2 linked regions of the Homo sapiens genome follow. The protein of the gene in region 1 interacts with the protein of each later gene in a pairwise test. Each region holds a gene or a part of one and is shown in the gene's direction. Other genes may lie near its edges. The genes, in order: ALDH1A1 and DBH.

The links.
Region 2: the proteins of ALDH1A1 (region 1) and DBH interact in binary tests that used the Homo sapiens proteins (3 or more experiments, as listed by UniProt).

Annotation. Positions count from the first base shown.
Region 1 is NC_000009.12:72,944,857-72,960,961, reverse strand, and holds the start of ALDH1A1 (aldehyde dehydrogenase 1A1), read left to right. Parts: upstream 1-7,908; 5' UTR 7,909-7,961; coding exon 7,962-8,027; intron 8,028-16,105. UniProt on the Homo sapiens protein: Cytosolic dehydrogenase that catalyzes the irreversible oxidation of a wide range of aldehydes to their corresponding carboxylic acid.
Region 2 is NC_000009.12:133,623,500-133,639,660, forward strand, and holds the start of DBH (dopamine beta-hydroxylase precursor), read left to right. Parts: upstream 1-12,863; 5' UTR 12,864-12,872; coding exon 12,873-13,211; intron 13,212-16,161. UniProt on the Homo sapiens protein: Catalyzes the hydroxylation of dopamine to noradrenaline (also known as norepinephrine), and is thus vital for regulation of these neurotransmitters.

The DNA of each region.
Region 1 (16,105 bases):
TGCCTGAAGTTCGGTTGGTGTTGTTTTGTCCTAATCAGAGACAGGAAATTCAAGAAAAAGATTATGTTGCAAAAATGATAATGTGTTCCTTTAGTGGTCTTAAAATATAAAATAAAGGACTAGGTAGTAACCTAAGTGAAAGGCGACTAGAATAAATAATAGAGATAGATCGAGGTCTATGTTGGAGTGCAGTTATTCTCAAAGTTGAGCATGAATCAGAATCACCTGGAGGGCTTGTTACACCACAAATTGCTGAGCCCCACCCGAGAGTTTCTGATTCAGTAGGTCTAAGATGGGGTCAGACACTGCATTTCTAAAAGATTGCCAGTGGATGTAGTTGTTGCTCCAACTTTGAGAACCTTTACTACTCAGCTTCATGGTTGCATTATGAGGAAATGGAACCCAGAGCTGCTCCAATGATTCTGACAGCTGACCACACATTAGAATTACCTAAGGCACTTTAAACGCACTTGGGCTCAAACTACTCCTACAGAGTCAGAATCTTTTATTTTTTGTTTGTTTGTTTTGAATTCCCCAGGTGATTTTAATGTGTAGCAGAGAGGCTAAAACTATTCTTCAGGTCTTCTGACAGTTTAAGAAGTTAAAATCTGGGGTTTAAAATGTTTCTAATTTGTACAGTATTGCACAGTCCACATAAAACAAATATGCTGGCTCTCAGGTTTGCAAACCCAGCAACATGATGAGGTGTGGCATTTAGCTTAGTTATCTGACCAGCAGTTGAAATGCAAAGCCAGGGCCTGGAAGATAAATTTGGATTGTGGTCATAGATCTGGATATGTATGTATAACTTTAAAATGTGAAAACAAATTCAAGCAAGCAAATGCAAACCAAAAGTTTTATATTCTCCAAATATAATAATTACTTTAAAAAGCAAAAGCTTTCACAGAAATCGTTATTTATTGCATAATACGTTTGCAATATAATAAAGATTTATAATGCAACCAAAACTGGAAGGTTTTTAAAATGTAACTCTTTCTTCCTCTCTCACCATATAACATACTTGCTCCTTTGCTTCTGCGATGAGTAAAAGCTTTCTGAGGCTTCAACAGAAGCAGAGCAGACGCTGGTGCCATGCTTGTTCAGCCTGCAGAATTGTCAGCCAAATAAACCTCTTTAAAAGAAAATTATAACTTATCTAGTCTCAGGTATTTCTTTAAAGCAACATAAAATGCATTAACATCAAAAATTAGTACCAAGGAGTGAGGCATTTCTATAAAGATACTTGAAAATGTGAGCAGCTTTGGAACTGGGTAACAGGAAGACATTCGAAGAGTTTGTTGGGGAGGGGGTACTCGGAAGAGGACAGAAAGATGAGAGAAAGTTTGGAACCTCTTGGAAACTGGTTAAGTGATTGTGACCAAAACGCTGATAGAAATATGGACAGTGAAGACCAGGCTGATGAGGTCTCAGATGGAAATAAGGAATTTATTGGAAACTGGAGCAAAGGTTACCTTTGTTATGCCCTAGCAAAGAACCTGGCTGCATTGTGTCCATGCTGTAGGGATTTATGGAAGTTTAAACTTAAGTGTAATGACTTAGAATCTGGCAGGAAAAAATTTCTAAGCAGCAAAGCACTGAAGATGTGGCATGGCTGCTTCTAACAACCTATGATCAGATTTAGGAGCAAAGGAAAAACTTAAAGTTGTAACTTATAATTAAAAGCAAAGCAGAGTGTAAAAATTCAGAAAATTTTCAGCCTGAACATGTGGTAGAGAAGGAAAGAGCATTTTCGGGAGAAGAATCCACCAGCTGGAGGAAAAACCACTTGCTAGAGAGATTTGCATAACTAAAAGGGAGCCAAGTGCTAATATTCAAGACAAGGAGAGAAAGGCCTCAAAGCCATTTCAAAGCCCTCCCACCACAGACCCAGAGGCTTAGGAAGGAAGAGTGGTTCTCGGGGTCAGATTCAGAGCCCTGCTGCCCTACACTACCTTGGGACATTGCTCCCCATACCAGGCCTCTCTGGCTCTAGCCTTGGCTCAAAAGGCTTTAGACACTGCTCTGGCCACTGCTTCAGAGGATGAAACCATAAGGCTTGGCAGCTTCCATGCAATGTTAAGTCTGCAGGTATTCAGACTGGTGCCCAGGCAGGAACCTGATGCAGGGGCAGAGCTCCCACATAGGACTTCTACTAGAGAAGTGCTAAGTGGAAATGGGGTTAGAGCCCCAAACAGAGTCCTCACCAGGGCATTGCCTAGTGGAGCTGTAGGAATGGGGCCACTGCCCTCTAGGCCCAGAATGGGAGCGCCGCCAGCAGCCTGTACTCTGAGCCTGGAAATGCTGCAGGCATTCACTCCAGCCCTTGCAAACAGCCATGTGGGTTGTGCCCAGCAAAGCCATGGGGACAGGGCTACCAGAGGCCTCAGGACCACATTTCTCACACCAGAATGCTGAGCATGGAGTCAAGGATTACGCTGGAGCTTTAAGGTTTAACAACTACCCTGATGGATTTTGAACTTGTGTAGGTCCCATTGCCCCTTTCTTTTGGCCAATTTCTCCCTTTTGGAATGGGAATGTTTACCAAGTGCCTGTACTACCATTGTATATTGGAAGTAAACAACTTGTTTATTATTTTACAGACTCACAGGTAAAAGAAACTTGCCTTGAGTCTCAGATGAGGCTTGAGACTTCGAACTTTTGAGTTGATGCTGGAACAAGCTAGGATTCTGGAGGACTATTGAAAAGGAATGATGTATTTTGCCATGTGAGAAGAACATGAGATTTGGGGGAACTGGGGCAGAATAATATATTTTGGATGTTTTTCCCCCACAAATCTTATGTTGAAATGTAATCTCCAGTGCTGAAGGTGGGGTCTAGTGGGAGGTGTTTGTGTCATGCAGGTGGATCTCTCATGAATGACTTGGTGCTCTCCCCACGGTAATAAATTTACAGGAGAGCTGGTTATAAGAAGAGCCTGACACATTTCCCCCTCTCTCTTGCTCCCTCTCTCTCCATGTGACATATATGCTCCCCCTTTGCCTTCTGCCATGAGTAAAAGCTTCCGGAGGCTTCACCAGAAGCTGAGCAGATGCTGGTGCCATGCTTGTACAGCCTACAGAAACATGAGCCAAATAAACCTCTTTCTCATCTTTACTCTCTCTATATATACACATACATATATATACATAAATATATATGTATATAAAATATATAAAACACCTGATGAGTTTTTCATTGTAAGGTACAGATAGAAAGCTTACCTTTATTTAAATTAGAATATTTAGATAGTAACAATAAACCTGAATGACACAAAGAATGACGGGTGCATGATCAATGACAACATATACATTTTGACACCTATGAACTTGAACTTTTATTGATTAGTGCATTAGTTTCCAATGGCTGCTGTAACAGTTATAAACTTGGCGGTTTAAAACAACACTTTTAGAAGCCAGAGATCTGAAATCAGTTTCACTGGCCAATATCAAAGGAGTGGACAGGTCAGGCTCTCTCCAGAGATTCTAGGAAAGAATCCATTGTCTTATGTTTTCCAGTTTATAGAGCTTTATTCTTTAATTATTTGTCTTCTGGTCCCCTTCAATAGCTTCAAAATATTGATTCATTGCCAGGGCAGGGGTGGTAAGAAAAGTTGTTTATATGAAAATTAAACTGAATATATTACAAACAATATCATCAAATTTCTAAACACATTGTTGGATAATCTGCATGAGAATTATAAAAAAAAAAAAAAGAAAAAATTGTGGAAATCTCAAAGTAGTCTACATTTTGATTGACTCATTGATGTCTTTCATGTCTTTCTTTCTACACATTAAGGAAGCAAACTGGAAACTAGACAAAACACTATGAGTACTATTTATGCAAGATTATTTCAAATTCCAAGCAGCAAATCCAGTTCCAAGAAATGGCCTCAACCCATAAGGTTTAGCAAAAACCTATTTAAACTCAAATAATTATCTTACAGAGGCTTTAATGTACTGTTTCTTTTAGTGACCTTACTAATCAGTTAGTGTCCTGGTTAGACCAGATTAGAGGGGCATCTATCCTATCTCAGTAACACAAGCCAAAGAGAAGAACAATGAAAAGATATGTAAAGAGCAGGAGAAATCAGAGGTGAGGAAATTTTTCCAATTGAAGAAGAATGGCATGTGAACAGAAATTAGTCAACAAATACATATGTTCATATACTTGAATTCTGCCTTCCACTTCCATTTTTAACATCAACTTGTCAACTAAGTACAGACTCTCTCACTACATACAAGATCCACTTTTCCCAAATTATTAAAACTCAAATAAGCATAAGAGCAATGTGGTATCTGATAAAAATGTAGTAATCAAAAGCATAGGGATAGATTTCTTGCTAGGTTTACCAACAGGCAGACATGCTAAGGCAACAGAGAATAGTTAGGGGAGTGGTCATGTAACTGGAGTAGGAGAGGTTCATCTTCAATAAATGGTTCCAGCATCTTGAAATCAGGAAATATGAAAAGAAACTGTCTTAGTTCATTCAGGCTGCTATAACAAAAATTAATTTCTCACAGTTCTGGAAGCTTGAAGTCTGAAATTAGGGTGCCAACATAGTTGGGTTCTGGTGAGAGCCCTCTTTTGGGTTACAGATTGCCAATGTCTCATTGCATCCACACATGGCAGAAACAGCGAGAGATCTCTCTGGAGTCCCTTTTATAAAAGCACTGATCCATTCATGAGGGTCCTACCCTCATAACCTCATTACCTCCTAATATGATTTGGCTCTGTGTTCCCACCCAAATCTCACCTTGAATTGTAGTTCCCATAATCCCCACATGTCATGGGAGGGATCCGGTGGGATGTACTTTAATCATGGAGGGGGGTTACCGTCATCCTGTTCTCATGATAATAAGTGAATTCTCATGAGATCTGATGGTTTTATAAGGGGGTTTTCCCCCTTTTGCTGAGCACTTCTCCTTGCTGCCACCATGTGAAGAAGGACGTGTTTGCTTCCCCTTCCACTGTGATTGTAAGTTTCCTAAGGCCTCCCCAGCCATGCTGAACTGTGAGTCAATTAAACCTCTTTCCTTTATAAATTACCCAGTCTCAAGTATGTCTTTATTAGTAGCATGGGAATGGACTAATACACCTCCCAAAGGCTCCATCTCCTAATACCATCACATGGGGGGTTAGGATTTCAACATATCCATTGTGACTGGACAAAAAAAATTCAGTCCATTGCAGAAGCTATTTTTAATTCATCATATGACTTTTTTCAACATTTTTTTAAAAATTTTAAGTCCTGGGTGGCAGATTAGGTTCCTTTTATCTTTTCAGGAACTGAGGATTGGACGGAGTTCTGGAGATGTTTGTTGTAAAATGAAAGAGTAGTTTCAAGAATGGTTGAAGTCATAATCTATATGTTTCTTGGTATAATGAAAGCTTTCACAAATGGCTGGAGAAGTCAAATTCAAGAGATGAATAAACTATCCTCTTATGTTTCTTGCTTCTCTCTCCATATGTGTGTGTGCCTGTGTGTGTGTGTGTGTGTGATTTAGTTTGTTCATAAGGAGGAAAAAGAAGATGAAACATCATTTGTCGATTACTCTCAAGTTAAAGGGACAGCTCCTCCTCTGCTGCATAGTCCTGGCATACCATAAAAACGTACAATCCTGGGTCCAGTTCTAAAATGTGCAACCTTGGTCCCTAGGTTCTCACAAAAGCCATTATTTCCTCTGTAAGGAATAGAAGTAGTCTGATGAAATCTTTTCCTCATATGCAGCAATTCCCAGAAATATGCTATTCTACAAAATAAGCTCTCAGGGCAGGATGATGTTTACCTCAAAAATATAGGTCTCAGGCCCTGTGGTTTCTAGGCAGAAAAGATCTGCTTAAGTGAGGTTAGGGCTAAAGAATTATGGATGCATAAATGATACTTAGTAAATATTTGCTGAAATTAAATGGGCAGGTGTGGTAACCTGTCTCCAAAGCAACTCCTTTTGCCTACATTCAGGAATGCCTGGTATAAAGGGACTGTTCTTACATAATTATCCAATAAAATACAATTGAGAATGATCATATAAGAAGTGAGATGACAAGCCAAGTATGTTATGAAGCCTTGAGCTTTCATCGCCTGGACATCAAATAAACCAGTATTTGAATCCACAAACAACTGTGACTCTGGGAGAAGAAAGCAGCAAAACACAGCTGTTTGGGCATGGCCAGAGCGCCACTCTCAAGTTATGTAACAGCTGTTGTGTAATTGTGCATTTAACTCAAAACACATTTTTGAGAGAGAAAACAATTAGACTTTCCAAAAAGAAAGAAACAGAGAAATGTTGAAAGAACACAGAAGTTTCTATCTGGTCATCAAACATAAGACACGGGGGAGTCAAAGGCATTGGGAATGATATTGCCTTAGAATCTAGGGAGTTGGCCCGTGCACCAAATCTGGCCTGCCTTCTGTCTTTTTAAATAAAGTTCTATAGGAAAACAACTACACCCATTAATTTACCTATCATCTACAGTTTCTTTTAAATAGAGTCAAGTAAATTATATCAGAAACCATCCAGCCCAGAGGCTGAAAATATTTACAGAAAAAGTTTTGCAAATTCTTGTCTTAGATGAATAAAAAGTTATGTTTAAATGCCTGTAAGGGTGACTATTCACTGAGAAAACCAAAGCAGTTGATGCTTGAACCCATGTAGGAGTTCTCTTGTGGAGAATAGGGTAGAAATAGTAAACAGAAATAAGAGTCCAGGTTTGGGAGTCAGACTGGCCTGAAATGAAATTCTGGTCCTGCACTAATAGATCTGTGACCATAAGTAAGCTACTCACCCTCTGTATGTCTCTAAAATGGGGATATGAAATGAGGGTAGAAAGGGAAACAAGTGCTGCACCTGATTTGGGCAAACAATTCAGAAATTTTTAGTTTCCCTATGTAAGTCCCATATTCAGGGGAATTGGCAAGTTTCACTAGAAAAAAAAAAATTGGTTGATTCTCCACAATCAGAGCATCCAGAGTATTTTATCTTGTTCCTATTGTAACGTTTGCTAGAGCTACAATACAATAAAGTATTGTACTTAAAATGGGAGTAACACTGTTTAAAAAATTGTCCTTCAGCTAAATATTAATTTAAGAACTTGAATTGTTTGGAAGCCCTGCTTAAATTTAGTCTTTGTACACTGCCTATGTTGATAAATACAGACAACTTCCAAAACCAGGATTACTTTCATTTTAAATGAGTATTAATAGATGATATTGCCATATTTCTAATTGTGGTGATTGTGTGTGACAGTGTGTTCCGAATTCCCTAAAAGTCCTGCTGGCTTTTCTGTTCACATATAGAAAATAAAGATAATTTAGGGCTTCTGAGATCACAGTAGGTCTACTTACCCAGCACTGAAAATACACAAGACTGATACGATATTTTAAAACTAACTTAGGGTAGGGTGTAGATAAAGGGCCTTTCTTCCCCAAACAGCACCTTGATTTTCTGGGAGATGGACTGATTTCCTGAAAGCCTTGTCCTGAAGACACCTGGCCAGCTTCTACTGAGAACAAGTGCCCTTTTAGACTCTTTTCAATCCTCAAATTCTCTGATTCCAAGTCTGTCAGAGAACAGAAAGTTACATAGTAGCATTAAAAAGCATGAGAAGTCAAAAAAATAATAACTGGCCTTAGTGGCCAGAGCAGCTGCTGCATACACTTATCACAGGTTTCGGCTTTGTAAATTAATTCATCTGCAAATAGTGCACTGTCTCCAGGTACAAATTCGATGCTGGAGCACTGGTTTCTTAAGGATTTAAGTTTAAAGTCAAAGGCTTCCTGCCCTAGGTGTTACAAATAAGTAGTGTCGTTTTCTTTTTTTGCTCTGAGTTTGTTCATCCAATCGTATCCGAGTATGCAAATAAACTTTAGCCCGTGCAGATAAAAAAGGAACAAATAAAGCCAAGTGCTCTATCAGAACCAAATTGCTGAGCCAGTCACCTGTGTTCCAGGAGCCGAATCAGAAATGTCATCCTCAGGCACGCCAGACTTACCTGTCCTACTCACCGATTTGAAGATTCAATATACTAAGGTGAGTAAAACTTCTATTTTCTGCTTTGACTCGGGTTTGCAAAAACTGCATTTATGTAAAGCATTAAAGGTCAATTTAAGTAAACTTGTGTAAAGAGCCCTTTGCAAATATAAAAATAAAAGGCATGCAAAATGCAGGTCTCAGTTTAGTGTCCTGATCAAATATGATCTAAATCATATCAGACAATCTTTCATAAATTTATTTCTTAAAATATTTCCAAGCGAAAGGAATTCTCTTCTGTGTGAAAGGATTCTTATACCAGGATTCAGAGGACTTTACTAAGCACTTCTATTAACTTCACTATAGCCGGCATGTATGATAAGAGAGCAAAATACTCACTAGAGAAGCTTACTGGAAAGAACCAAACGAGTAGGAACAATAGAAAGCAAACAAGGAGAAAGAGAGCATACTGAAATAACATAACTTTCCAATATGTTTAATAAAATGAGTGTTAAAATAGGGGGACTTAAGTCTGATAATTGGATTCGAAAATCTTCAGATGGACTTGCATTATTTTGCATATTTTGGTGGGAGGAAGAAAAGCATTATTTCTTCAGCCAAGTTTGTTGCCATTGGAGCAGATGTGTAATTGTTAACTGATAAATATTTAGAGAAACAAGAGCAGGAGCTAGATCCAGACTTTAAAATCCGCAGCTGGGGGGAACTAGGAAATGGATCCTGCTTGAGTCGTTCTGAGAGTAACTCTGAACTTTGCCTGTTTCACACTGCTTTCCTGTCAGATCCTAGAACTCCAAAACAAACAAATGAATAAAACACAATCTAACCAAAATTACTTGAAGTTATCTTTATGGTGTGATGCAGAAAGTATGGTAAGAAATTAACTCTTGCAAATCAAGAGAGAGCCATTTTGCTGTCTGAATTAGCCAACAGAAAAACAAAGGGCATTATAATTTAATGATAAAGTAAAAGTCCCCACTGTTATATATTTATTTCCTCACTTGTAACCATGGATGGCTTTGAAATCCCAAGGTCTGTTGCATTTTCATTTTCATAAAGCACAACAAATGAGGAAGTTGCTCAGCTGATTGGCTCTTTTCCTCAGGAAAGTAGCAGCAGAGATCAGATTGTGCCTTTAACATGGTTGACCAGCAGCTATGAAGTGTATTTTAAGGTATTGTTATCACGAGGTTTTGTTAAAGAGGAAAGATTTTTTCCATTTAGTTTTACTACAAATGGTAGCATGAAAAATGCAGTAAATCCATACCGTCAAACAATTTACATTTGGCAAAGGTATGTCCAAAAGGTTGCAAGAGTCCAGTCTCCCTCATTTTCTTATTCCAAGTTTGTCATTCACAAGAAATTTCAATTGAAAGTGGGTACATTTAAAAATACATTTCATGAAGCTCAAAATTGTCGACAATGCTCAGATTATTGTATTACTATTATTAATGGGATTTTTTTTTTAATAATACTACCTAGGAAGATATTTTGGTAGTCTGGATGCCCCTGTCTCCCCACTCCTTTGGCTTTGCAGAAGTTTGCAAAGTCTTCCTTGTGTGTGTATTTCAAGGAAGCTCTAATGTAAATAACCTTCCTGCTAAATTAAGCTTCACTTAGTAGTCATTAACTAAGCATGTAAGAAGCGGTACTAGACAAATGAGATGGTCCTAAAAATCTAACATACAAGCACAGACCTAATGAACCCTTAACACAGAGAGATGATTTTGAGATTGAAACCTATTCACTTCGAAGTCACTGTGCAACAACTCCCCTCTAGGGAAAGTGACTGACCTAAGTGTCCAAAAGAAGGCAAGACTCAAAGAGCAGGCGTTTTGCTCTGTGTTTAAGAACTTTTCTGGGTAAAAATACTCCAAACAAGTCAGTGAATTTTGATTTCTCGTGCATCTTCTATATAAATCTGTTCTGCTCAGATAGCATTTTATTGTTTAATTTATTGGTTACAGCGTTTTCACACTTGGGAGGACGCCAGTTATGTATGTAATTAAATCTAAATGGGTGAACTTTTTCAAATGCCTTCGCATTTTTTGTTTACTATGTCCCAGTGAAGAATTGGATTGAATTTGCTCTTGCAAGAGGAGTTAAAAAAAAAAATGATGGTTATTAACTATAAAAAGTTCCCTGGTTACAAACCAAGTAAGCAAGGAGTTTATAGTGTCTGAGGAATTATCTTCTATTACCAGCCCCTAAAGTCTTGTGTTATTTTTCTGTTACTATTCTAATGTCCTTTTTTATTATTATTATAGCTAGAAGTATATTGGTTGTTAGGACAAGTTGGAGAGAACAGACAGGGTTGAGTAAAAAAAAAAATATTACAACTACGATAGAAAAGCTACATACTCTCAAGCTTGGGACTGCTTTTCACCCAAACAAAAGAATTTATTGATGCATATGTTTTTATGACTTATTTTCTAGTACAGTCTGATTATTTCTTTGTTGGGGTAGATTAAAGAGAGATCAGAGTTTAAGAAATGCTTTCTAAAATTATACAAAAGCTTTTGGAATTTAAAACCTCAAAAACATCGCTATAAATTCACTAATATGAACTCATATCCCATCCTTATCCTCATTACTCCTCTTTCCAACTCTAAATGAACCCCACATTTTCCATTTTATTGAGCCTTTAAATGAAGAGATTCTTTGAAAGTTATGTGATCATTGGGCAAGCTACATTACTTCTCTCTGCCTCGGTTTTCTTATGTTTAAAATGGGGATGATAAAGGCACGTATTTTCTAAGGTCGATGAAAGTATTAAACGAACTTAATGCGTACAAAGCCCTTGAAATAATGCCTGGACATGGGAAATGATTTAACGTTAGTGATCCTAGTCCTATTTTTCTGAATCCTTTCCAGTTTTTCCAGAATATTCCCTTTTACCCAACCTTTCCTAGACCTGTTTCCTACAAGTATGCCTCACGTCTTCTCCTAGCTTTTCTGTCACTCTTTTTTGTACAGTCATGTCCCATCTGACAAAGATTGCATCAGAGTGAAGTTCCAAGGGTCTTCCAAGATTTCAGGGATCAAAAATTTTCTCCTACAGGATTCGGTAACTTTGTTTGCCATTCTCTCTTCACAATACTGTTGTTTTACCTTTTCTTTTTTCTTTTTTTTTTTTTATAAAAGGGAAATAGGAAATTCAAGAAGACAAGCATTCTCAGACAGAATTCAAACGCCAAAATGTTTAACTTAATTAGTAAGCTTCACTTATTAAACCATGGTTTGTTCATGCTACAAAAGACCTTCATCAGCTAATGACATTTTACTCATACATACACACACACACACACACACGCACACACACACACACAATAAATAATTATAGGTAAAATTTATTGTGCTTACTCTGCCATGACTGTTTAAGTTCTTGACAATGATTTTATTTACTCCTCATAATAACCCTATGAGGAGGTTACTATTCCTGTTTCACAGTTCAGGGAACTGAGGAACAGAGCGGCTATGTAACTTACTAAAGTTACACAGCAAGTAAGTGACAAAGCTACACTGCCAATGCTGGCAGTTTGAGCTAACACACTAGCAAGAGACTTGTCTAAGGTCAATTCCACTACTCTGGGACACTGACTTGCCAGAATCCTCTTGTATCCTTCTTCATCCTGACTTTCATTTGCCCATTGCTGATTACCATGGTCTTTCCAGCTGCTGCTCAGCTGTTCCCAGGCCAATAAGAGAAAGTTTGCAGCCAACTTAGAAAAAGAGAACAATAGGGAAATTGAAAGGAAATAGGTTTTCTGCTTTGACTGAAAATGTGACGTTTGGGCTAGGAGAGGCTATGAGGCAGAGGACTTTGACATGGATGTGAAATGTCTGTGTGAACTACATTTCTTCAACTCCTATGGAATCGATTTTGGTTAGAGTAGGAGATTGCTTTCCTAGATTTCTGGTTTTGTTTAACCCTTCTGGGTTAAAGAGATATTTTCAATGGAGAAGAGTTATGAATCATTGAATAATACGTCCCAGGCACGATTTGAAGTGCTTCTTTTCCCCCATGATTATCTCTTTAAATTCTTACAACAAACAAATTCAGCTACATGAACTTCCAAATACCTCCTTTGTCCCCTTTGCTTGTTTCTCCCTTTTGCTTTTCGTTTCTCCCATATTTCCCTTCCTCTTATTTAACAAGGCCTTGAATGAGTGCCCTATGCTAGTTCTCATGATATAAGAGGGCTAATATGATTCACGTCTCATGCAGCCTCTGTTCCTGGAAGGTGTGTGGAATAGTGTGGGGCAGAAAATAAGAGAATGCTTTAATCAGAAATTAGGATAAATGTTTAAAGCAAAATAACTGAAAGCTGAGAGGATATGAGTAGAAGAGCTTTTGATGAGGATTTTTGGGAAGGTGCTTTAAAGGTAAGCCTGAGGGATGTAGAGAATAAGGTGGCCAAGAGTAGGGAAGAACAAAGATCCAGAGGTCTTACCACATGCAAAGACCCCGAGGACAAGAGCATGTTATGCTCAAAGAACTATCCAAAGGCTAATCTGGCTGGAGTAAAGTGAATAAGGGAGAGAATGGATGAGATGAAACTGAAGTACAGGCTGGGGCCAGATCGGCTGGCGGATTTTGAGGAAGATCACTGAGAGGTGCTTAAAACAGGAAAGGACTTATGTTCAACGCAAAGCTGATTGTGCTGTGATGCTGCTTTCACTTGGGAAATGTTTTTAACTTCCTTCCAACTGAAGCAATATTTTGTTTGCTTTGGGCTTGGAAGCAGGTGAAAAAAATAGCTGACTGGCTGCAAGGTGCAGTGACTGAACAAGCTAAACCTGGCTTCAATTTCCAGCTATTCTATGTATTTAATTATATGACCTTGGCCAAGCTTCTCATCCCCTGGAGCTTCAGTTCCTCTGTCTGTGAATTGGGAATGAGAATGACTACCTTGGAAAGTGGCTGTGAGAATTAAGTGAGGTAATTTGTGGAATGTGGCTGGCACTTATTAACTACTTAGTCCTTTCTCTCCTTGATTCTCTTTCCCAAGATGACTCCTAGAATTATATGATCATTCTGTTCTCAATGTAAGTTATATTTATATTGCTTATCACAGCTCAAAACTGATTTCATATATTTCTCTCATTTGAGGTGCATCATTAACCACTGAGAGGAGCTAGAAAAGATGTTAGCAGAGTCCCATTTCAAAGCTGAGGAGCCCGAGCTCAGAGATCATGACTGACTTAAGGTCACATAGCTCTTAAAATGCAAAAGTAGAATAAACTGGATTCTAAATCTTTTTATCTTGGATCTGATGCTTTCCCACATGATATCCTTTTTTCCTTAAATATCAAAACCAGTAGTACTAGAATCTCACTCAAGAAAACCTAATCAAGAAAAAAATCTGAAGTAAATAACACATATCCTAAGAGAAGAGGGTATTATCCCCCTTTCCCAATTAGCTCTAACAACTGTTTTCACACCTATTACTGCATTTTTATCATTCATTCCTTACTGTGGTTGAAAGAATAGATCTAGGCTGAAGTCTGAGATTCTGTGTTCTTAACAGTCTTTCAGCTTTTGCTGATGCTACCAAAATGTCTGTTGACCAGCAGCAAGGGTCTAAAAGTTTTAGGTGAGTGAGCCTTATAACTTCAATGCAGCAACCACCTTCCAGTTACTTCACAATAGAGCTTCCAGTTTCTTCCAGAAACTAGCACTCAGCCACATCAGAAACTTTCCTTTCAGAAAGTGCCAGAGCTAAGCAGAAACATGATGATGGCTACAAACCAGTGACAGAACCAATCATTGATTTTAATAGTGGGAGATAATCATTTACTAATATTTAGAATGCTCATCTCTGAGGACTGCTGTCTTGGCAAGTTGTTTTGTTTTCTGGCACCTGCCTGACTGTAAGAAAATGGAATTAACAATTCTAAAGTAAAGAACACATGTCCTAAGAGAGGGTATTGTCCCCATTTCATAAGGGCTCTCAGTACAACTCTTTATATAACTTTGTAACAGGGACTTTAACCTATTGAATTTGTCACTACATACTTGCCAGAATGAGGGAAACACTCTTAGAGAATATGAAAAATAACTCATTTGAAGACCAACCCAAAGTAAAGGTAATGACTCTGAAATGGCATGGATAATCTATAGGATGATATGTTGCAAATCAGCATAAAATAAATCTCACAGAAATACAGACATCAAACAGAGATATCTGAAAATAGCAATTATCTGGCTTGGGATGGTGGTGTGGGGGGGTGCACTTTGGTTTGATTTATCATGATGCTATTATAACTATAGCCAGGGGATATATTATATGTTTACAAAGTGTAAGTGACAACATAGAACCATGTTCAAAAGAATTTGAGCAAGGATTGCTTCACAAACCCTTACTTAGAATCCAATAAATCAGAAAAGTAAATCTGTGTAATACTGGTTTTCCTGACGCTGACATGTTTTGGGTGTATAGATGTATATAGCAAAAGTATCCACAAACTTAGAAGCATTGCTTGAGAAGGATGTGAAGTGTTGCTAATATTGGGTTTTCTGATATTATCTCTACCTGATTCATTGTAACGTTTGACTTACTAATGGAAATTTGTTCACTGGGGAATTTGCACAAATCTCACATCTCTAAAAACTTTGCCTGAACCGTTCCCTCCCCCAACCCTGGTCCCATTTCCACTGACTATTTCCACTGCTCTATCGATACTTTTTTAGATGTCAAAGGAATACAAATAACTACTGAATTATGCTTTATATTTGGCATTCTTTTAGAAGGAAGAGGGCTTACATGCGAGCAATTCTATTACTAGGTCTTGATACTGCTAAAAATGGGCAGAACTTTCTATCGCTTCTACATCTTAACTCTGATACAGAAAATATATGATGTACAGAAGTTGCTGACAAGTTTTGTTATCATCTCTAGGACACAGTGATGGAGTGGCTCAAAACAAATGCTGTGGCATCTTTTCTCTTTCCCTGACACAATTGAAAAGGCTGATGGGGTTTTGCAAACAACAAGAAAAAAGAGTATATACTCACGTTACTAAAGTCAGACTATCATTTAAAACAAATGAAAGGAAAATTTTATTTCTCCTATTTTTTGTTTTCGTCATTCTGTCATTTTGTTTTCATTCATTTGATGACAGTTAAAAATTTTCTTTCCCTTTGTTATTTCCTCCTTAATTTCCTTTTACATTTTCTAACTTTGAGTCTCAACATTTTGCTTTCCTGCCTCAGGGTTAGGGTGCAAAGCAGTTGCCAGAGATCCAGCTTTGATTCTTTTAAATGTTTAACACCCCACCTGACTTTTGTTCAGTCTCTCCTCCTCATTATTCATCTCCGATCTCATACTCCCTGACTCCCAGCGGCCTTTAGTACTTTGGTAGGTTCCTAAGCTGAGAAAAGGTTGACACATTTACAGCACACACCAGTCTCCACAGGTTCACACCACCACCCATGCAGCCTATGCTGTGACTCAGTTCTCAAGTTTGAAAATTCACATGGATGACATTAAATGGGGACTCTCATCACCCTCCCTCTCGTTTGGAAAATCTTAAAAGAAATTCTTTGTGCATTGAAAATGTGATCTCTTAAAATCTCTCTCCCACCAAGAAAGTATTGCCTTCCTTTACAGACTCTAGGGCTGCTGGCCCAGTTGCTGCCCTGCCGAGATAATATTAATTTAAGGCACTCTGAGTATCTTTTGCAAGGAGTCAGGGGCTCCCCACTTTAGCCCACAGACTCCAAAATCTCATATCAGCAGATAAGGCAAATAGGGCTTTATTTTGCCACTAGTCAAAACTAGCTTTATCCAAGCCAGAAATATTTTGAGAAAATTATGCTTATTTATTTAGAACTGTAGATTTATACACAATACATTAAGACATAATAACTTTTACTCTGGAAAGGCAATTTTTTTCACAATTATGACTAATTCTTGGACACCAGTTGAATCCAGGAAATGGCTACTTGTTTATCAAAGGTAAAATGATGCATTTCTTAAAATGTGGCATATCTAAAATCTGAAGTGTAAAAATCCATTTCTAAGTTGCCTCAACATTTCTATTGATTGCTTCCCCATATAGAAAGTACTTGAAGTCCAAGAGTATGCATAGGCATTTATAATTTCCAATCAATATTT
Region 2 (16,161 bases), about 61 Mb from region 1:
GACTGGATCATGGGGGCAGTTACCCCATACTGTTCTTGTAATAGTGAGCGAGTTCTCCCAAGATCTTATGGTTTTATAAAGGGCTCTTCCCCCTTCACTTGTTCACTCTCTCTCACCTGCCGACATGTAAGACATGCCTTTGCTTTAGTCTCGCCATCCACCATGATTGTAAGTTTCCTGAGCCCTCTCCAGCCACGTGGAACTGTGAATCAATTAAATCTCTTTCCTTTATAAATTACCCAGTCTCAGGTGTGTCTTTATAGCAGTATGAGAACAGACTAATACAATGCTTAAGCCACAAACATAGTGGAAAACTCCCAGGCCTTTCTCTGAGCTGGGGATATGACATCCTCTCTCTGACTGGAGCCTCCAGTTCACCTGGAGCTCCCCTTTGCCCCTCAAGATGCTGGCCTTGTAGCTCCGGTCTGTACAAATGTGGGAAAGGCTGGTTGATATTTTGGTTAGGCTGGGCGTGGTGGCTCACACCTGTCATCCCAGTGCTTTGGGAGGCTGAGGTGGGAGGATTACTTGAAGCCTGGAGTTTGAGTCAGCCTGAGCAACATAGTGAGACCCTATCTCTATAAAAAAAAAATTTTTGGAAAATTAGCCAGCCACAGTGGCTCACACCTGTCATCCCAGCTACTTGGGAGGCTCAGGCAGGAGGATTGCTTGAGCCCAGGAGGTCGAGGCTGCAGTGAGCTTTGATCACACCATTGTACTCCAGCCCAGACAATGGAGAAAGACTTTGTTTTAATCCATCAATCAGTCAATAGACTCCCTCCTATTCCATATTGACGTACTGTTAATGGCAACAGATGATTTCTGCCAAAGGGGTGACAACATCAACCAGACTAGACAAAGAGATTGGCCCTAGGAATTCCACAAGAGGTGACCATTTACAAGAACCTGGAATGGACCAAGAACTCTTAGCAATGACCACACAGTGACTGTATTAGTCTGTTCTCCCACTGATATAAAGAATTACCTGGAACTGGGTAGTTTATAAAGAATAGAGGTTTAATTGACTCACAGTTCCACAGGTTGTACAGGAGCAATGGCTGAGGAGGCCTCAGGAAACTTACAATCATGGTGGAAGGTGAAGAAGGGGAAGCAGGAACATCTTCATGTGGCAACAGGAGAGAGAGAGTGAAGGAGGTTAGTGCTACACACTTTTAAACAACCAGATCTCATGAGAACTCACTCACTATCATGAGAACAGCAAGGGGGAAATCCACCCCCATGATCCAATCACCTCCCACCAGGTCCCTCCCCTAACACTGAGGATTATAATTCAACATGAGATTTGGGTGGGGGCACAGAGCCAAACCATATAATTCCACCCCTGGCCCCTCCAAAGTCTCATGTCTTTCTCACATTTCAAAACCAATCATGCCTTCCTAACAGTCCCCCAAAGTCTTAACTCATTCCAGCATTAACTTAAATTTCAAGTCCAAAGTCTCATCTGAGACACGTCAAGTCCCTCTGCCTATGAGCCTGTAAAATAAAAAACAAGCTAGCTACTTCCATGATACAATGGGGGTACAGGCATTGGGCAAATGCTCCCATTCCAAAAGGGAGAAATTGACCAAAACAAAGGGGCTATAGGCCCCATACAAGTCCAAAACCCAGCGTGGCAGTCATTAAATCTTAAAGCTCCAAAATAATCTCCTTTGACTCCATGTCTCACATCCAAACAACACTGATGCAAGGGGTGCACTCCCAAGGCTTTGGAATATTTCAATCAATCAATCAGTCAATAGACTCCCTCCTATACCATATTGATGTACTGTTAATGGCAACAGATGATTTCTGCCACAGGGGTGACAACATCAACCAGACTAGACAAAGAGATTGGCACTAGGAATTCCACAAGAGGTGACCATTTATAAGAACCTGGAATGGACCTCCATCCCTGTGATTCTGCAGGGCAAAGCCCCCACAGCTGCTTTCACAGGATGGCATTGAGTGCCTGCAGCTTTTCCAGGTGCATGGTGCAGGCTGTCAGTGGATCTACCATTCTGGGGTCTGGAGGATGATGGCCCCCTTCTCACAGCTCCAGTAGGCAGTGCCCCTGTGGGGAGTCTGTGTGGGGGCTCCAAACCCACAATTCCCCTCTGCACTGCCCTAGGAGAGGGTCTCCATGAGGGCTCTGCTTTTGCAGCAGACTTCTTCCTGGACATCCAGATATTTCCATACATCCTCTGAAATCTAGGCAAAGGTTCCTAAGCCTCAACTCCTGCCTTCTTTGCACCCATAGTCTCAACACCACATGGAAGCCACCAAGGCTTGGGGCTTGCACCCTCTGAAGCAATGGCCAAGTTGTACCTCAGTCCCTTTTAGCCACAGCTGGAACTGGAGCAGCGAGGATGCAGGGCACCACGTCCAGAGGCTGCACAGAGCAGCAGGGCCCTGGGCCTGGCCCACTAAATTATGTTTCCCTCCTAGGCTTCCAGGCCTGTGATGGGAGGGGCTGCCTCAAAGGTTTCTGTAATGCCCTGGAGGCATCTTCCCCATAGTCTTGGCTATTAACATTTGCCTCCTCTTTACCTATGCAAATTTCTGCAACTTTGAATTCTTCCCCAGAAAATGGGTTTTTCTTTTCTACCACATGGTTAGGCTGCAAATTTCCCAAACTTTTATGCTGTGCTTCCCTTTTAAATATAAGTTCCAATTTCAGACCATCTCTTTGTGAACACATATGAGTATATGCTGTTAGAAGCAGCCAGGTTATGTCTTGGATGCTTTGCTGCTTAGAGATTTCTTCCACTAGATACACTAAATCATCTCTCTCAAGTTTAAAGTTCAACAGATCTCTAGAGCAGGGGCACAATGCCACCAGTCTCTTTGCTAAAGCATAGTGAGAGTGACCTTTACTCTAGTTCCCAATAAGTTCCTCATCTCCATCTGAGACCTCATCAGCCCGGCCATCTCTGTCCACATCACTATCAGTATTTTGGTCAAAACCATTCAACAATTCTCTAGGAAGTTCCAAACCTTCCCTCATTTTCCTGCCTTCTTCTGAGCCCTCCAAGCTGTTCCAACCTCTTGCCCATTACCCAGTTCCAAAGTAACTTCCACATTTTTAGATATCTTTATGGCAATGCCCCACTTCTTTGGTACCAATTTTTTGTATTAGTTCATTCTAACACCGCTATAAAGAACTACCTGATACTGGGTAATGTATAAAGAAAAGAGGTTTAATTGACTCACAGTTCCATAGGCTGTAAAGAAAGCATGGTTGAGAAGGCCTCAGGAAGATTACAATCTTGGTGGAAGGTAAAGGGGAGGCAAGCATATCTTCACAGGGTGGCAGGAGAGAGAGAGGAGGGAAGTGCTACATGCTTTTAAACAACCAGATGTTATGAGAACTCACTCACTATCACGAGGACAGTGTGTTAGTCTGTTCTCACGCTGCTAATAAAGACATACCTGAGACTGGGTAGTTTATTTAAAAAAAAAGAGGTTTGATGGATTCACAGTTCCACGTGGCTGGGAGGCCTCACAATCATGGCGGAAGGCAAAGGAGAAGCAAAGTCACATCTTACATGGCGGCAGGCAAGAGAGCATGTGCAGGGGAACTCCCTTTTATAAAACCGTCAGATCTCGTGAGACCTATTCATCATCATGAGAACAGCGTAGGAAAGACCTGCCCCCGTGATTCAATTACCTTCCACCAGTCCCTCCTCCAACAGTGAGAATTACAATTCAACATGAGATTTGGGCAGGAACACAGATCCAAACCATTTCAGTGGCCTTGGCCAACCCACCATGCTGAGACACTTCAAACCCAGACCTGTTCTCCTGGGACCAAACAGGCCTTTGGCAATCCCAGCACTTCCAAGACATCCTGTTGCTCCAGGTATTGACCAGTGCCACCCAGAAAGATATCCTCATCAGCACTGTAGCTCATGCTACCTCCTCACCTCCTACGTGACACAGACCATCTCTGTCCTGGTCATTTTAATTCGCCCTTTCCCCAGGGCCTTATGGGGCCAAGTCTCTCCATAACTTGATCAGCAGAGGGGAAATTGGATCAGGGTGTGCAGATCGTTGCCTGCTTCTTACTTTGTGAATGTCAGAAGCCCCCAGGCACAGAGACCTGCTTGTTTCCAAAGTCTCATCTTTGAAAAGCAGATGGCAAGGCTTAGGCTTGATTGAATTTGTGTTTATGTATGTGATGCATTTGATTGTAGCTGGAGGGAGGCTGCCTGGTCCAATAGCTAATTTGGCCCATCAACAGGGTTTAAACCTACTTACCTGTTAGAAACTATTTGTTCCATGGAGGCAGTTGTGCCTTTGGCTGGTGGCATAACAGCCAGCGTCTGAGCATCCCCCTTGACCAAAGCCTTTTGAACCTGTGGGTTGATTTCAATTAGGGAGCCCAAAGTCCTTGGCTCCACAGCCCGGGCTCTGAGGACTGATGCTATAGAGCCGTGGGTACAAGTGTATGAGGGCCGGCAGACAAAGGCAAGAGTTGCACCGCTGTCACTCATAGTTTAAGAAACAAACGACCCACATATTTATCAACAGGGAGTTGGCTAAATCAATCAGAGACCATGCCTGCAGTGGGATACTTGAGAGCTGTCAAAGGCGGAGGCAGCACTGAGCGTGTATACTCAACATATATCCAACATGCACGTGGAAAACACCAGTGGCAGGACAGTGTGTACAGCAGGCCATTTAACAAACAGTGATGGCTCCTCAAAAATTAAAAGTAGAATTATCACAGGATGCATCAATGCCATTTCTGGGTACACACTCAAAGGAATTCACAACAAGGATTCAAAGAGGTATTTGCACACCCAGCAGCATGATTCACAACAGCTAAAAGATGAAGCAACCCAACTGTCCATCTACTGATGATGGATACATCTAGTGTGATCATTCATACAATAGACTCTTCTCCAGCCTTAAAAGGCAAGGAAGCTCTGACACATGTTACAACCTGGATTCACCTTGAGGATAGTATGCTCAGTGAAATAGACCAGACACAAAGGATAAATCCTGTATGGCTCTATGTCTATGTGGTCTTAGAGTCATCAAAATCATGGAGACAGAAAGTAGAATGGTAGGTGCCCAGGGCTGGGGGAGGGGGAATAGGGAGCTGTTGTTTCATGGGCACAGAACTTCAGTTTTGCAAGATGAAGCGTTCTGAAGACAGATGGTGGTGATGGTTGCACGGTAATAGGAATATGCACTGAAAGCCATTGAACTGCACGCTTACAGTGGTTAAGGCGGGACATTTTACATGATGTGACAAATCAATAATAAACAATTTTAAAAATTTCAGAGAATGAAAAGCTGTTCTGACAGACGACATATTGAGCTGTTAATGGTAGTCGTATTTGAGGGAGTGATTCTGCGCCGTGTTTTTCAGGCTTGTCTGGATGTTTATAATGATAGAGCTCGCCACCGTGGAGGGAGCCCTCACTAAGCACAGATGGTCCAGCCTCTGCCTGCACTGACTCGGGGAGCCCCCAGCCTGAGGAAATGCGAGTGTAATTCTGTCACTGTCCCCATAAGCTGAGGAAACAAGGTACAGAGGTTGAGGAACATGCACCTGCCTCTTTCTGCCTTTGTCTTGATTACTTCTCTGGGATAAGGACCATGTCCCTCCCAGTGAAACTCACCTAAATGTCAAGGGACAGCACTCCTGAGCCTCAGCCTCCACATTGCTTGCCCCCGGGTAGGACCACAGATGCCCCCTCGGCCCTGGGCGCTGAGGCCAGTGGAAGCCCTGCTGAGCCTGCGAGGCTCTGCCCTTCAGCATCTCTGGGATCAGGTTTCCAAGAACACCTGGCCCTGAAATGGGCATGGGGGGTGGGATGAGGGCTGACTGACCACTCAGACCTTGGGGCCCAAGTCCCCTGTTCTCAGCCAAGGCCCAGGGAGTCAGGGCAGGTCCGGGGGTCCTGGGCTGGGTGGCGCCGGTCTCAGCCACATAGGTCTGTGTCCAGTGGGGTGTGGCAGCCGCGAGCTCCAGGGGTTGGTGGTGAAGTGGCCCATAAGCCCTGAGCGGGGGTCTGAGGGCTGGTCGCTGGCATTGTAGCCTTTGCCAGGCAGCTCACTCGAACCCTGCCCGCCCACTCTGAGGCTGCCATAGCCCCCATCTTGAGAGTCAGCAGAGCCTGCATGGAACCGCCCGGGAGGCCCAGGCCAGCCTTCCTCTCCAGACTCCATGGACGCCAGACGCCACGCTCTTCCAGGCCTACCACTCTGCAGCCACCACCCATGACCACGGAGCCCTGGCCAGTGCCACTTGTCTCTAGGCCTCGGCATCCTAAGTTGTGAAATGGTGACAGTCAGGGCCTCCATGTGACTTGGAAGGGTTGGGTGCCCTCACTCACGAGAACGCCCAGTGCCTGCATGCTCGCCTAGGGAAGAGGCAGGTGGGCTGCAGACACGGCTCCTACGAGCCTGTGGACTCAGAGGGCATCTCAGGACTCGGGAGCCCAGACCACAACCTGGTGACAGCTGTCCCACACAGGGCTCCCACTGCACATGGCATGGTGCAAAGGGCATTGACCCTCAATTCTCACCACAACCCCCATCTCCTGGGCCTGCCCAAGGCAACTGGTACCCCACAACTTCCTGCATCTCTGCCCCCCCCTCCCACCCTGGGGTGGGCTTGGCTGTGTGAGTGGACTTGGCCCACCAGCCGGCAGCCCCCATGCTGGGCTCTGATACCCCAGGAGCGTCCTTCTGCCAGTGAGGGATGGGTGTGGGAAGGTGAGGGCCCCGGCTTCTTCACCCTTGATGTGACAGTTTTGGGGTGCATTCCACAGTCTCTCCAGGGTCCCCTTGGAACTGAGTCCCTACTGCCCATGGAGGAAACTGATTATGAAAGTACGGTTCGTGAGTGTTCCCACTCCCCTGCCCACCCGTCTCCGCACACTCTGAGCTCTCCTTCCACACAGCCTGCTCACATCCAGACCCTTGCCTCAGCGTCTGCTTTTGGGAGAACCAAAACCATAACAGGACAAAAAGAAGGGAACACAGTCTCCGACTGCACTTGGGGGTCCCACCAGAGTGTGACGGTGCCAGCAGACACTAGGAGAGGAGGGCGCTTGTATTTCCTGTGGCCACTGTAACAAATGACCAAAAACTCTGAGGCTTAAAACAACACGATTTTTTTTTTTTACAGTTCTGGAGGTCAGAAGCTCTAAAATCAAGGTGTCTGCAGAGCTGGCTCCTTTTGGGGGCTCTGGGAGGGGAATCTGTTCCCACCTTTTCCAGCTACCAGAGGCCTCCACATCCCTTGGCTCATGGCCCCTGCTCCGTCTTGGAAGCAGCCTCCTCTCCTTGGACCCCATCAATGCATCTCCTTCTCTCTCTCGTAGGACCTTTGTGATGACATGGGGTCCACCCAGCCAATCCAAGACCACCTCCCACCTCCGGGTCCTTAATCTAATCACACTGAATGTCCCTTCCCCAGGTAGCCTACCCGACTTGCAGGGATCTGGACGTGGCCATTGGGGGACATCCCTCTGTCTGTCACACCACACGCCAGAAGCTCAGAGAGATTCCAGGGAGGGAGGCGGATTCTCATGTTCTCCGAGACCCTCCTGGGCCAGAGCCCTGCCTGTTGGACCCTGTGATGTCAGTGGGTGCAGCAGCCCCCGAGATGGATGCGGGTGAGGGCAGCCCGGGGCTGTCTCGCTAGCCCTCACTGCATCGGCCCCATTCTGGGTCAATGGTAGGTCAACCTGGTGGATCTCTGAGGTGACCAAGCTTACTGACAGATGAACTACAGCCTCAGGAAGAGGGTCATGGCTGGCAGGAGCCAGCGGGGGGCAAGACCAGCAGCCCTGAGTGCTGGTGCAGGCCACGCAGGGCCCAGCCTCTGTAGCCAGAAGTCAGCGCCAGTGCCGGTCCTGAGCAAGATGGCCATTTCACAGATGAGGAAAGAAGGCTCAGGGCTGTGGGGACTGTCCGGGTGGGTCACATGGCCGGCAGGTTTCAGGGCCTCTCTTTCCATCTGGTGCCCACAGTTACGCTGTGGCTTGGGTGTGGTCTGGAGCTACTGCCTCAGGACCCACCACCATCCTGGCAGTGTGGTCCCTTCAGAAAAGCTGAAAATGCAAAAATCAGGCACATGCACCTCCCCCCATGAGCTGCTCAAGAGAGAGGAGCAGTCACGCATCCTTATGGAGAAAAGGAGAAGCAGGACCCAGAAAGGGTTTCCCTGTAAGATTCCTCAGGGCCCAGCAGGCCTCAGCCCCAAGATTGAGGCCAAATTATTGGAGGGGTGTGTGTGTGTGTGTGTGTGTGTAAAACTGAGTATGTGAGCATGAGCCCAGAGCTGGGGGTGCAGGCCACGCAGGTGTGAGAGTCCACCTCCCCATCTCGCTGACCCCTGTGTATGGAGGAGAGATGGAGGCGGGGGAGGCTGTGTCCTGCCCAGGCCAGCCGCCTGCCAGTGACAGTGGAGGACTTGCTCACAGTGGGGCTGCTTGGGGTCACACAGGAGTGGCCTGGCAGGCCTGGCAGCCCCAGCCCTGGAGCCAGCCACAGACTCCTGGGTTCTGCTTCCCTGGGAGCTTCCAGGGGAGTGTCACTGGGGCTCACGATACCGACCCCTTCTGGGATCAGTGGCCCCTTGCTTTTGGCACAGAGCTTCAGGGCCAGAGGGTGCCTCTAATCCAGTAGCTGAGGAAAGCTTTCAGTGGTGCTCTGGGCACCTCTGTGACCTGCCCTGGGCCCAGTCCTCATGCTGATCCCACTGTAGCCACCCTACTCAGTGCCCCAGGCCCTGGACACCTCAGGCCATGGGATATCCCAAGCATTCAAACTCTCACGGCCACCTACGCTTATGAGCAGAGGCAGAGGCATGGTGCCACCGCTGCCTCCTCAGGCAGGATATGCTTTTTGTTTGTTTGTTTTGAGACAGGGTTGTTCGCTGTCATTCAGGCTGGAGTGCAGTGGTGTAGTCAGGGCTCATTGCAGCCTCAAACTCCTGGGCTCAAGCGATCCTCCCGCCTCAGCCTCCCGAGTAGCTGGGACTACAGTCTTGTGCCACTATGCCTGGCTAATTTGTTTTTATTTTTATTTTGGTAGAGACTGGGTCATGCTATGTTCCCCAGGCTGGTCTCGAACTCCTGGGTTCAAGCAATCCTCCCGTCTTTGCCTCCTAAAGTCCTGGGATTATAGAGGTATGAGTCACTGTGCCCAGCCCAGAATGTGCCTCTTAACTTTCATACCGCAGCCCCTATGCTCAGGACGAGGAGGGACATAGGCCAGCTGCCCCAAGTTCCCCAAGGGGACTGTGCCACCCTGGAGTGGGCTCTGTGATGGACAGAGTCACCGTCTCCCAGCAGCTCCCAATCCATCCCATCACAAGTCAGGTCTAGGCACTGCCATCAGACTGATAGTTGAATTTTTCCTGCCAAGAGGAGGTCCCTAAGAGCCTGAGCCACAGGCGAGGGACAGTGCTGTCCTGTGGCCAGGCCCCGTTGTCACTGGGGAGTGGCCTGGCCTGTTCACTCACCCAGCTCCAGTCTGCACCACCGTCGCTCCACTTGGGGTTGTCACTGCCTGAGGTTAGGACGTCAGCAGAAGCCAGCCTCATGTGGCAGAGGCGATGGGGAATTACAGCCTGCAAAGGCTGATGGCATCAGAGAGATTCAGGAAAGCAAAGGGCTTATTAAAAAGCTGAAATTGGTTCTAAACAAGGTCAGCCGTCGATGCGCCTTGGAGGGAAGCCAGGCGCTGAGCAGCAGGAATGGGGCTTATTTCCTGACACCGTGGCCGTGACACCCTGCACCTCCCCGGCCTACCCCACCCCCAACCCCACTCCCACCCCCATTCCCATCCCCACCCCCACCGCCACCTCTGGAGGGCAACGTGCACCCAGACACTGGAGCAGAGGCAGCAGGGGTGGGAGCAGGGAGGAAAGCCCCCCGCGGGGCACCACAGGGAGGCATGTGGCCAAGAGAGCACCTGGCAAGCAGGTGTCACCTCTGAGGAGGGTGAGGGCAGGAGGAGAGCTGACTGTTGCTTCCTTACCCTGGGGTCGGATTGCTCCCTTTTAAAATCCATTAATGCAAGGAAGGGCGCAGCCACGGGGCCATCCGATTGGATTCGCTCCCTCCCGCCCGGCCCCAGTCTCCGCAGATTTTCTCTGCGGTTGCATTTTTCATTTGAGCGTCCCTTCCTCTTGACTCCAGTGGAATTTTTCTGACCTTGGCTGACAAGGTGTGCAGCCCCCTCCAGCTCAGGGCACCCTCTTTGGGGTGCTTGCCCCAGGCACTGGCCCACCCTGTGAGCTCAGGCGCATTGTCTCGCCTCTCCGAGGCTGACTCTCCTGTGTCTGAGACAGGGATGATCGCACACCCAGCCACCCAAGGCTGGCCAGGATGGAGGCAGGGCAGGGGAAGCCCTGGTGCGGCCTGACTTGTGTCTCCTGTCCCTCCCTAGGACTTAGTTATCAGTATTTTGGAATCAGCTGAATCATTTCTGTCAAATGCTAGAGGAAAGCCAGTTTTGAGTTGGATAAAGAAAATGTCTTTGATTCCTGTTAAAAATAAACATGTGTGCATAACACTGCTGAGCACGAGACCGCACCTGCCGTCCCTCCTTAGAGCTCCCAGCAGCTGTTGGTCTTTGGCGTATCCGGGAGAGGAGCGAGGCCTGGAGGTGTGTTGAGCCGTCCAAGGGCTGGTAGCATCAGGGGCTCTTCACTGCCTCTCGCTCCACAGAACCGCTGGGTTGAAGGAAGCTGGAGGGATCAATTGTCCTTGTCATCCAACTTCCTGTGTCTGTAGATGGGGAGGAGGCGCTGGGTTGGAAAGCGCTTCTCTGAGGACGCCAGCTGCGCATTCAGGAGGGCGGAGCAGGATATGACCCCAGAGCTCTGACCCCGGAGGAGCAGGAGGGGTGCCTGGGGCCTCAATACCCCAGAGGGGAGAGAGGTGCCCCCCTTCCCACAACGCGGGCCCCAGCTGGTGCTCGTTTAGCCTGTTGTCTAGCTGGAGCCACCTGGGTGGCCACCAGGCTGCTGGGAGGGCTCACCCCTGAGCTGGGTGTGCTGTGGAGCCCGTGACCCTCACCTCTGCCTCTGCTGGCTTTTGTTATCCCGTGCTGGGAACACCAGTGCCTGCCCACCCCGGAGGCTCTTCGTATCACCGGCTCGCTGTGGCCGCTCCCCAGTCCCGAGAGTGAATGTCCGGGATGCAGCAGACACCTGCTTACAAGGCACAGGTGAGGAGGTTTTGGAACTAATCTGAGGCATGAAGGTGAGGTGCTCTCAGGCGACGGAGGTGGCATGTCCTGATGGGAAAGCCAGGCCTTCGGAGGCTGAGACCCTTCCCAAGGCTCACCAGAGAACTCCCAAGAGTGTCTTTCCCCTGGCCTGGGAGACAATTTCACACCAATGCCACACTCTATTGCACAGGTGATTATGCACTTGGACCTCACCTGCCTGGGCTGTGGGTGGGGGCGAACGGTGCCCCTCTGGGTGCAATCAGTGGGGAGGGGCTCATGGCCTGAGCTTGGCTTTGCAGGATGGCCTGGCCACTGTGGGGCAGAGAGCACTGCCTGCGAGGGCCAGGGGAAGGCTGGCACTTTCTCCAAATTTCACGTTCGTGCAAAGACACAGTCATTCCTTTCTACAGCGTAGAGCTCAGAGCTGAAGCAGCCTCCAGACCTGCTGTCATGGGTATTTAAGGACCTAAATGTTGCTGTCAGCCTATGACATGAATGTGCCCCTAAGGCTAGATTCTGGGTTTCTCCAGAGAGACGAGAAACAGGAGGGAAAAGGAAGGAAGGGAGGGAGGAGGCTGGGGAGGAGGGACAGCTTCTAGTCCAGCTGGAGAGATCTGTCAACCCAGCCTGGGGGGTGGAGCTGGAGGGATCAAGCAGAATGTCCTGAAGGCAGCTGCCCTCAGTCTACTTGTGGGAGAGGACAGGAGGGAGAGGTGCCGTGGTGAGACTGACCCTCGGGCCCACGGGTGGATGATGGCAAAGGTCCTGTGGCAGGTGTGGGAGAAGCAGGGCTGCGGCCAGCTGCCCTGAGAGGCTTCAAATTCAGGCCAGATCTGCTCTGGGCAAGAGGAAGCTGTGGGTTTGGGAGCTTCAGAGACAGGGGAGCAGGCCTGTCACTCACCCTCTTTTCCTTAAAGGCTGTCACCCCCAGCAGTGCACCCTGCAGCCTGCCTATCCCCTGTGCAGCTCCAGCTCCGTCTGTCCCCAGCAATGCACCCCACGCCCATGTCCCCCACTCCCTATGATGCTCTCGCGCCTTCTGGAGCAGCAGTGGTACCAGCTGGAGGCTGTGGAAAAATTGAGAGGAGACAAAAGTGGGAAGAGCAGGCCGTGGAGAGAGTGTCTAAACACAGGGACTATTTGGAGATTGTCTTATTTTTGGTTTGAAATGGGCCCACCTGCTAGTATTGTACAAACGGCTCTGCTCGCTAGGCCAGGCCTGCAGTGGCTACGGGCCTATCCTTCACTGGTCAGCCTGGAGCAGCTCCTCGGACCTCAGTCTGCTCATCCGTGGGTAGAGGCGACGCAGACCCCATCCCACTGGGGACTGGGCCAGACAGCCTGTGAGGCAGTCAGCTGGTGCCTGGCCAGAGGGTGTCTGAAAGGCCTCTTGGCTGCAGGGTGCATCTGCTTTTGGGACAGCTCTTCAGAGCCATCTCAGAAGGGACAGCATCCGCCTGTCTACTTCAACTCCCACTGATGACGTCCATGTGTCATTAGTGCCAATTAGAGGAGGGCAGCAGGCTGAGTGCTTGGCCTGGGGCGCAAGCTTGTGGGAGGGAAAATTGGATTCCCCGCTAGACAAATGTGATTACCCGTGCTGCCTGGACCCACCCCATTCAGGACCAGGGCATAAATGGCCAGGTGGGACCAGAGAGCTCACCCCAGCCATGCCCGCCCTCAGTCGCTGGGCCAGCCTGCCCGGCCCCAGCATGCGGGAGGCAGCCTTCATGTACAGCACAGCAGTGGCCATCTTCCTGGTCATCCTGGTGGCCGCACTGCAGGGCTCGGCTCCCCGTGAGAGCCCCCTCCCCTATCACATCCCCCTGGACCCGGAGGGGTCCCTGGAGCTCTCATGGAATGTCAGCTACACCCAGGAGGCCATCCATTTCCAGCTCCTGGTGCGGAGGCTCAAGGCTGGCGTCCTGTTTGGGATGTCCGACCGTGGCGAGCTTGAGAACGCAGATCTCGTGGTGCTCTGGACCGATGGGGACACTGCCTATTTTGCGGTGAGTCTCTCCTCCCTGCCAGCTCTCCAAACCCTTCCTGACCCGGCACCCCATCTGGCCGTCTTTCTGCACTCACCCTCCTTAACCCAGAAAGTTCTTCTGTCACCTGTCAGTGTTTGAGTTGACTCTGCTCTGAGCCAAGTCTGCACCCCGAGCTTGGGCATCATGGGGATCTCAGTTTGAGGACAAAATAGGAAAGACATGCTTTCCATGGTCCTTGACTGCCCGCCCCAAATCATGGGACCCAGTAATCCCAAGGAATGGAACTATACACAGAGGACGCACACACCACACACACTCGTGCCGCTCCACACCCCACACGCGCATGAGCACAGACCCCACGACCCTCGGCCCTGTAAACAATGCCTAGTACCACGTCCCCAGAGCACACATGCCCACTGATGTGGGCCAGGTGGTGGCGCGTGGCTGGGCACAGCATGAGGCCTGCACACCCATGGGATCCAGCCTGACCTACTGTGCTTGTACCCGTGGACCAACTGAGCAGGTGCAGACACCCTGCCCCTACCCATAGGTGTTGAACAAGCCCCACAGGGCTCAGCCAAAACTGTTAGGATGGGCTCTTGACTCCTTTCCGTCCAAATTTACCTCCACTCTTGTTTCACAGGGTGGAGAAAGGGGAAAAGTTTCCCTTCAAACTGGAGGGGACTTTAGGCCCTTCCACAAGCTGCAGGGGGTCCCCGAAGTGGGCGAGCCCACCGCCTACAATGGGTCCTGCTCCAGCCTTCCTTTCCACATGGGACTGGCCACCAGGGCTTCTTTGTGGATGAAACCCAACTCTCTCCACAGAAACACACAAAGGAGTGACAAAAAAGTTTTATTTCTGAAGTCAGGAGGTGCCTGCTTTATCTGGGAGTGCCGAGCTGGAGCGGGGGAGCTGTGTCTGTGCGGAGCGGCCGGCTCCAGCTCTGCATCTTGGTCTCACCATGGGCTGGTGGGGCGGAGAGTCCCTCTCTGCCTTTTTGGGTGTTGTGAATTCATGAGGGCAGATGGTGGCTGCTGTTTCTGGAGCTGAGCTTGCCCCCTCCAATTCCCAAGACTCGGCCAGGAGGCACTTGCCTGTGTCGCTAGTGAGGCTTAGGGCCACCCAGGTAGGGTGAGTGGAGCTGCCTGGGAAGGGCCCTGCTCTGACCCATAGGGCTGCACAGATTCCTGTGCACAAAGACACTCTGTGGCTCAGGTTCCAGCCAAGAAAGACCTGGGACAGCCCTGATTCTGAGCCGTCAGCCGTCTGGAGGAGCAGCTGAACCCCATCGCTGACAGTTTGGGGTTCTTCGCAAGCCTCTGCCATGAGGCACCCTGAGTGCAGGAGCATTTGCTCCTCTCTGGGGCAGCGTCCCCCCTGCCTGCATTTCCCGGCTGCTAGGGAAGCCAGAGGAAGCCAGGTGACTTTGCCTTTCCGTGCACTGGCAAGGTTAATTTGCACAACAAATTCCTACGAAAGCAAATGTCAGCCTTATTATTCCTCCCTAAGCAATATGTTCAACTAATATCTTCTTGATTTCCAGCTGAAATATCACAGGCGAACTTTCTGCCTCTGTTTAAAATGAGTCTCTCGGCAAACCAGCGGTGTCCCCAGCGGGGTTGCATTGTGTGGCTTTTTTCTCTAGGGAAAGTTTTGCAGTATCTTTTGCAGATTTCTTTTTTCTCAAGGAAATGAAGAAAAGATGTTTTACCCTGAATGTAAGATTAAAAAGAAACACAACCCAAAGTCCTTAAGGCCAAGGGCCCGAGGCTTTCTTGGGGTTTCCATGGGAAAGGCCAGGCAGGGCAGGGAAGCAGCTTCGTTTGGACAATTCTGGTGGGCTCTGGGTGGCTGGGGTGGTCTCTAGTTGCCTGGTTCCTGGCCCTAGGGTGTTTTAGGGTTGGGGCAATATTGGCCTGGGGTGTGAGAGTCAGGTGGAGGAGGTAGCTAGGGATATGGGCTTGGTGTGGGTCGGAATGTTAGGAATATGATTCTCACACACGTGTGAATGTTGGAGGGCAGGACAGGTGTAAACAACTCTGACCATCTGTTTGAGCCTTCAATCAATTAATAGATGCCAAATAGACAAATATGGAATCTAAGAAGGGCCCTTCTTGAGTACGAAGGGCAGCCTGCTTGTTGGGGAAGGCTCCTCGCTGTCTCTCAGTGGGTCTCCCTGGTGGTCTTCCATGTGACCTGGCCTCGGGCCACCGTGTCCCTGCCCCTTAGGGCCCAGTGCAAGGGGAGCGGCCGGAGACGGGGAGGGCAGAGGTCACTGATCCAGATCCCAGGAAGCATCCTCGGAGAATGCAGCAGGTCCAATGCCTCCCTGGGCCTCAGTTTACCTTCTCCAAGCAGGGCTGGGACTAAGGTGAGGGGAACAATGCCTAGGCTGCAGGGTTTAAAGTGGTGCTTCAGGCTGGGTGTGGTGGCTCATGCCTGTAATTCCAGCACTTTGGGAGGGCAAGGCAGGAGGACCGCTTGAGGCCAGGAGTTCAGGACCAGCCTAGGCAACATAGCGAGACCCTATCTCAAAAAAAAAAAAAAAAAAATCCAAAATTACATGTATTTATAAAGTAATAAAGCAGTGCTTGTTCTCAGGGTTGTGCCAGTGCAGGGTGGGCACCTGCTATCAATCACCATCTTAGATGTGGCACCCTGGTTTCTCTCTCCTTTCCTGTTCATGTCCCACCCTGTTCCCAACTCTCCCCTTTCTGAGGCTCCGCAACTCTCCTGCCTGCATGAATGTGGGCAGCATTGGTCTGAGGCATTGTTCCCAGTCTTGAGGAGGCCTTGGGAGCCTCAGGCATCTTCTTAAGAAGCTCAGTGTCCCGCCCGCCAGGCCCGGGAATGCCCATGGCTAACAGAACCTGTGACCTGCTGGCAAGTGACAGCCCTGGTTCCTGGCTGCAGAGGAGGAACCAACTCCACTGTCGGGGCTCATCTCCACTGTCTCCAGGCAGAAAT